2 linked regions of the Homo sapiens genome follow. The protein of the gene in region 1 interacts with the protein of each later gene in a pairwise test. Each region holds a gene or a part of one and is shown on either strand. Other genes may lie near its edges. The genes, in order: TOX2 and ANKS1A.

Region 1 (4,028 bases):
CCTATGGGGCAGTTGACCTGGAAGGGCTCTTGGCGACCGTCCCCTTGGCGACCATCCCCTTGGCGACTGTCCCCTTAGCGATCCTCTACACAGAGATTCCCAGCCTCTTTAAACCAAAGTCACGAACATTGGTTGTTCTTTTGGTATCTTTTGTTTGAGAAAATGCACACTAATGAAAAGCTGTTATGGTTTTATTTTTGCTTTGAAATAGATGTGTATTTTATTAAACACAATATTAGCATGCATTAGAAAAATAGCTTAACAGGTATGAAGAAGACTCATTACTATTTAATGTAATAAAGGTGCTTTTTGAGCATAGGGATTTGTGGCCCCATGGCTCCCAGGATCTGTGGCTCCATGCTGGGAACCATTGGTCTCCTCCTTCTTTGCATTACAGAAGGGGAAACTGAGTCACAGAGGAGTGTAACTCACAGATTACACAGCAAGTAAGGAACAAAGATGAGGCCTGAGCCCAGGTTTGACTCCCAGCAGGACACTTGTTTGGCTTTTTTGCAAGTCTCTGTCATGGTTCAGGGGTTTAGAGCCTGTAACATCTTTCTTAGGGTAACTATGAACTCCTGGTTCAGATTTTGGCAAGGCATCTTACCAGGCTGGGGGACAGCTGGGGGATCCCTGCTCAACTATGGCAGACTAGTGTAAACTAGCCATCAGAACTGGGCAAGCCTGGGTTCAAATGTCCATTTGTTGCTTAGTGACCTAGGGCAAATGATTTTTAGCTCATTTTTTACTGAGATGTGATTTACATACAATAACATGAAGATTTTAAGTGTACAGTTCCATGAGTTTTGATAAATATTAACACTCATGTAACCAGCATCCCAGTCCAGATAGAGAACATTTCCGTCATCCCAGGAAGTTCCCTCACATCCCTTTATAGACAGCACGCCTTATCCCCACCTCCAGAGGCAACTACTTACCTGATTTCTGTTACCAATGCTTTCTTTAAGTTCAATTTAGGTATATTAACCATGCTTAAGTTCTAGAACTTGATATGCAGCATAAACATTTGTGTGTCTGTCTTCTTTTTGCTCAATGTAATGTCTTCAACATTCATCCACGATGTTGTATATATCCATAGTTTGTTCCATTTAATTGCTGAGTAATATTATATTGTATAAATATAATACAATTGGTTTATCCATTCACCTGCAGGTGGACATTTGGGTTTGTTTCCAAGTTGGAGCTATTATAAGTAAAGCTACTGTGAACATTCTTATACAAGTCTTTTTGTGGGCGGGGAAAATCATTTAATATCTCTGAGTCTTGGTGTTCTCTCAAAGACAACATTGCCTACCTCTGAGTTTCAGGACGGTTAAGTGAGGTGATACAGGTTAGGACAGTTATTGGCACATACCAGCTACTAATTAGATAACAACAATATCAACCATCTGGGGCCCATTCCAGGAAGAGGCTTAGCATCTCCGTTCCAGCATCCTTCGTCCCTGGACTGAAGGGATGAAGGCCTTCATCAAGGCCAACCTGGGTACCACCTTCCCCATGTGGTGCTTCACAGCCAGCAAACTTCTCTTTCTTTCCAGGCTTCCCCAAGAACTGATACTGCATAGGATGTGGCATGTTCTGCCATCCATCATTCTACCAAAAATATTTATTGAGCACTTCTTGGTGCTAGGCACTGTGCACAGCAACTGATGCTGCAGCAGTGAACAAAAGTCACTCAAATCACTGCCCTCTGGAGCTTATTTATCAGTGTGGGAAGTCATAAATATATGGGTGAAATATATGGTATCATGATTGATGGGAATATGACTTTTGGAGAAAAATGGAACAGGAAAGAGAGTTGGGAGTCCCAAGGCCTGGGGCTGGTTTGTGATTGTTAAATAGGGAAGTTGAGGAAGGCCTTGTGGTCTAGAATAGTGTTTCTCAAATCTATGTACACATGAAGAATCAGCTGGCAAGATTTTTTTTAAATTTTATTTTAAGTTCCAGGATACATGTGCAGGATGTGTATATTTGTTACATAGGTAAACGTCTGCCATGGTGGTTTGCTACACCTATGAACCCATCACCTAGGAGTTAAGCCCCGCATGCATTAGCTATTTATCCTGATGCTCTCACTCCCTCCCTCCCCCCGGCACTTGACAGGCCCCGGTGTGTGTTGTTCCCCTCCCTGTGTCCATGTGTTCTCATTGTTCAGCTCCCACTTATAAGTGAGAACATGCGGTGTTTGGTTTTCTGTTCCTATGTTAATTTGCTGAGGATAATGGCTTCCAGCTCCATCCATGCCACTGCAAAGGACATGATCTTGTTCCTTTTTATGGCTGCATAGTATTCCATGGTGTATGTGTACCACATTCTCTTTATCCAGGTTAACACTGATGGACATTTGGGTTGATTCCGTGTCTTTTGTCTGGCGAGATTGTAAAAACAGATTCTTGGGCTCCACCCCCAGAGATTGGATTCAGTTGGTCTGGCATGGGGTCCTAGGAATTTGCATGTCTAATGAGCTACCCAGGTGTTGTTACTGCTGATCCAAGGACCACACTTTGTGTAGCAGTTGTTTGGTTGTTTGTGTACAGGCTTTTGTGGGCTCCTGGCAGGCAGGAATTCTGCCCAGCACCTGGCATCGTGCCTGACTCATAATTGCTCAGTAAATATGTGCTGGTGGGTGAAGGATTCAACTTCCCACCCACACAGCTCTGGGCACAGCATCTTGTAAGGATGAGATCTGGACAAGCTTGGTTAATGAATGATTGAGGACTCTTTTTGACAAAAATTCATGAAGTGGGGTTAAACTATGGACTTGATCTGGACTTGACCTATGTGAGGCCTGCCCGGCATACTTGGTGGGTGAGATTCCCACAGCTCCTTTCTTCAGGGGCACAGGTGGCTGCTAATGGGTCCCATGGAAGGTACCCTGGGATGGGTGGGCTTAGAGCTGAGATGGCTGGTCCCAGGGAACGCTAGATGGATGTCTGCATCTCTGCTAGGAAGCTCTCATTTACTTTCCATCTAAACATGCTCCCTATAGCTCCTCCCCCAACCTGTGCTGGAGGCTCCTCCAGGAAGGACCCCAGGATGTTTGCATGGCAGGACCAGCAGCCCAAGCCTGGCACTGCTGCCCCCGATCTGCTGGGTGACCTTGAGCCTGTCAGCACCCTTCTTTGGGCCTCTGTTTCCCTGTGTGCAAAGGGAAGGCAAACCGGTGACCATCAGCCTAGAGGGATGGTGTGGGGGTGGAAATATAATGAAATAAAGGCTGGGAATGTCATTTCTAACTGTGGAGGGTGCACTGGGAGGGAATGCTGGTGGGAATGGTGCTTTTTGAGGAGATGGGCCTGCTATCCTTCAGAGGACAGGAACCACTGTGTCTGCCTTTACTTTTGTATTCCCAGCGCTAGCCTGACACATAGATGCTCAGCAAATATTTGCTGAATGAATGAATGAATCTAGGGCTTGGCAGTTGTAACCTGTGGCTTGAGGAACTTAGCATCTGTTTGGCTGTTGTCATCTGAAGACTTTGTGGGGCACAAGGAGCCAGGGCAGGACCCCGCAGAGGCACAGAGTCTTTGGCGGACCTTCCATTCCTAGAGGAGCTTCCCCAAGTGGGCTCGGAGGACAGAGCCTGGCACACAGAGCAGCCTGTAGGCGGGAAGAGGAGCTGAGCCTGCATGAAGGACAAGGTCCTGTGCCTCCCCCTTGGTCCAGCAGTCCCCCTGCTGTGTGGCTCCTTGCCCCATGTGATTCTGTAGGGCAATCTATTTTGCTTCTCTGATTTCCTAGAGTTGGTCTCAGGATATGAAGGCATCATGGATTCTGGAACCTGGCAGACTTGGGTTTGAACACTGCCTTCACCACCATCAGGGCAGGCAAGTTATTTAACCTCCCTGGACTCAGTCTCCTCATCTGTAAAATGGGGACATTGACATCTCCCCTTTGGAGCTTGAGGGTTGGAGACCATGTATGTGTAGCACTTGGCCCCAGCAGGAAATGCTTTCATTTTCATCCACAAAGAGCAGCCCAACTGAAAGTTAAAATGCGAGAGGAAC
Region 2 (3,500 bases), on another chromosome or scaffold:
AAAATAGTTTTTCAAGAATGTCTTTCTTTTTTTTTTTTTTTTTTTTTTTTTCTGAGACAGTGTCTCTCTCTCTCGCCCAGGCTGGAGTGCGATGGCACGATCTCGACTCATTGCAGCCTCCACCTCCCGGGTTCAAGCGATTCTCCTGTCTCAGCCTCCCGAGTAGCTGGGATTACAGGCGCACGTATTTTAGTAGGGACGGGATTTCACTGTGTTGCCCAGGCTGGTCTCGAACTCCTGAGCTCAGGCAGTCTACCCTCAGCCTCCGGAAGTGCTAGGATTACAGGCGTTAGCCACCGTGCCTGGCCTTTTTTTTTTTTCTTTTTTTTTTCAGAGACAGTGTCTCACTCCTTCATCCAGACTGGAGTACAGTGGTGCAATCTCAGCTCACTGCAACCTCTGCCTCTCAGGTTCAAGTAATTCTTGTGCCTCAGCCTCCTGAGTAGCTGTGATTACAGGCATGCACCACTGCACCTGGCGAATATTTGTATTTTAGTAGAGACAGGGGTTTCACTATGTTGGCCAGGCTAGTCTCGAACTCCTGACTTCAAGTGATCTGCCTGCCTCGGCCTCCCAAAGTGCTGGAATTACTACAGGTGTGAGCCCCCACGCCCAGCCAAGAATGTCTTAAAATACTCCCTTTAAGTGTGATTTTGTTGGGAGGGCAGCCCTGTTCCTGCATTTTGGAATTGCTGTACTTACATTTTTGCTTTCTCTAAAGCAGAGTGTGGTTCCCATGTTAAAAAACAAAAGGAAACAAAAAAAGGTAACATGCTTGGAAATGACTTTTGTGGTAGTTACTTTATATGTAAAAATCTAGAAGGTGCCTAATCTTAAACTGAGTAAGGCATTTACTTAGAATTAAAGATAATTTACCCAGCCTGGGCAACATGGCAAGACCTCGTTTCTACAAAAAATAAAAAAACTAGGCCAGGCGCAGTGGCTCACGCCTGTAATCCCGGCACTTTGGGAGGCTGAGGCGGGTGGATCACCTGAGGTCAGGAGTTAGAGACCAGCCTGGCCAATATGGTAAAACCCCATCTCTATTAAAAATACAAAATCAGCTGGGTGTGGTGGCCTGCATCTGTAATCCCAGCTACTTGGGAGGCTGAGGTAGGAGAATTGCTTGAACCTGGGAGGCAGAGGTTGTAGTGAGCCAAGATCGTGCCATTGCACTCCAGCCTGGGCAAAAAAGAGCGAAACTCCATCTCAAAAAAAATAAAAATAAAAAATTAGCTGAGTGTGATGGCATGCACCTGTGGCCCCAGCTACTCAGGAGGCAGAGACGCAAAGGTGGGAGAATTGCTAGAGCCCAGAAGGTGGAAGGTTGAGGCTGCAGTGAAAAGAAAATTTACTACAAAGTTTAAGATTTAAAGTCAGTGGTCTCCCTTTTTCCTGCATCCTCCAATTGAAGTTCAGTTTTTACTTTCTTAGTTGCAAAAATTAGAGACAGGAAACAATGAAACAAGCTTGTGATCTGAAGAATTTGACTTGTATCTAGTAGCTTCAGCATGTTCACGGGTCATAGGAGGTTATGGTCCCAGTGAAAGTTACATTCTTGGCCAGAAAAATCCCTTCAGGAGGTTCTTTTTCCCACATTGGATTGTTCACCCCAAACAGCTGTGAATTCTGGTTTGCAAAAGGAAGTCCAGGCTATTTCTGCCCTAGTCTTTCATAGGGAAAGTAAATTACTGGGTTTTTAGCCCAGAAACACTAAGGAAACCCCAGAAGTAGACAGTGGAGAGTTTGTTCTTAGAAAAATCAGGCTCTCCTGTGGGTAGGAACTTGGTCTCTTTTTTGGAGAGCTCTCAGAAAATATTTCCCACACTGATTTCCAAAGGATTATTGGGAGATTTTCTGTGGTAGAGAAAATTATATCGTATAATATGTTACATTCATAGAACATCTTCACATAACTTTGGTGTGGTTAGAGTTAATGGTAGTAATACTGGAAATTATATGGTATGTCTTCATATTTATCCTTTCTCAGTAATTTGTAGATCAAGTTTGTTTAGTTTACAAATCAAAAAAGAGTTTTTAAAACAAGTCAGTTGTCTCTGCTTTGAAACAAGATAGTTGTATCTGTTTGTGATATTATTACCACTGATCCAGGAAGCAGAACTGCCTCCTGGCCTACTTAAGTGGTGAGGACATACTATGGTGGCTAAGGATCAGGTTCTGACCCAACTCTGCCTTGTGACTTAGGCAAATTAAGTCACTTTTCTGCGCCTCTGTGTCTTCATATATATAATGGGCCTGGGATGGTGCCTATCTTCTAAAGCAGCATTAAATGAGCTAAAGGATGTAAGGCATATAATGCCTGGCACATGGCAAGGGTTTGGTAACCCTCAGCTGCTAGAATCATCTAATGGGAGCCAGGTGCTTGCCACCCTTGATGAATCAGAGTGAGGACCCTGTTAAGGACATATCTTTTATTGATGTTGCCATTTTAACATTTATAATAATTCACAGCAGAAGCTCCCAACCTTTTAAACTATGAAGAGTCCCATAGTTTTAAAAAGCCTGAAAATTGGCAATGGTGGCAAAGTTACAAAGCAATCCAGGTCCACAATCCTTTGTTTGAAACCTTGGGGCCAGATATGTTTTCAGGGTGCTGACTCAATATTGTATATTGAGTCCCTAGTGGGACTGTGGCAGCACCCTGGAAACATTGTATTTCTACAGCAAAACCTGTAAATATTGACTAAATGGGATAAATATGAAGCCGCTTCATATCAGCGTAGGTCAGGTTTTGCAGCTAAATGACTGCTGCTAACTTATGAAAATATATTTTCAGAGCTTTTTGGATTTCTGAATTGTTGATAAGGGACTGTAAACCTCTGCCTTTATGGTAGAAAAATTGCAAGACAAAGAAATGCACTAAGAAGAAAATAAAATCAGTTATAATTTTACCACCTACAGAAATTAACTTGAAATTTTGGTGTACAATCTTGTTTTTTTCTGTGCAAACTTTTTTTTTTAACAGAAATGACATTATTTTGTATATACTTTGTCTCATGTTTTCACGAACTATATTGTGAAAACACTTTCCTATATTTTCTGTCCTCCTCAACCTCATTTTAAATGGATGTGATATCCGTGGTATATATGAATTGTAATTAATTTAACCCCTTTCCTGACATGGAACATGAGTTTGTTTTTCGTTTTTTGCTATTAGAACAGCTCTGTGATGAACATGCATGTGGATAAGTTTGTGTGTACATTCTGCTTATAACATTTGATATATTCAATAGAATGGTAGGTGTAGTTTCAACATTCAGCCATTGCAGAAATCAACAGCTGAATATTCAAATTGCACCTCAAAATCAACAAGAAACATACATGTTGTTGAATTTGAGGACTCATAGTAATTCTGAGGCCCCTTACATCTCCTGGGTCCTTCTGACTGGGAAGTAATATACTGATTTATGGTTGCTAAATACTACTTATATTCAGAAAGTAACCTTTGTGCAAGCCCAGGACTTTTTAATGGTTAACTT

What was found.
Region 2: the proteins of TOX2 (region 1) and ANKS1A interact in a two-hybrid assay, tested with the Homo sapiens proteins (one large-scale study listed by BioGRID).

The regions. Positions count from the first base shown.
Region 1 is NC_000020.11:43,917,569-43,921,596, forward strand, and holds part of TOX2 (TOX high mobility group box family member 2), read left to right. Parts: intron 1-4,028. UniProt on the Homo sapiens protein: Putative transcriptional activator involved in the hypothalamo-pituitary-gonadal system.
Region 2 is NC_000006.12:34,895,755-34,899,254, forward strand, and holds part of ANKS1A (ankyrin repeat and SAM domain-containing protein 1A), read left to right. Parts: intron 1-3,500. UniProt on the Homo sapiens protein: Regulator of different signaling pathways. Regulates EPHA8 receptor tyrosine kinase signaling to control cell migration and neurite retraction.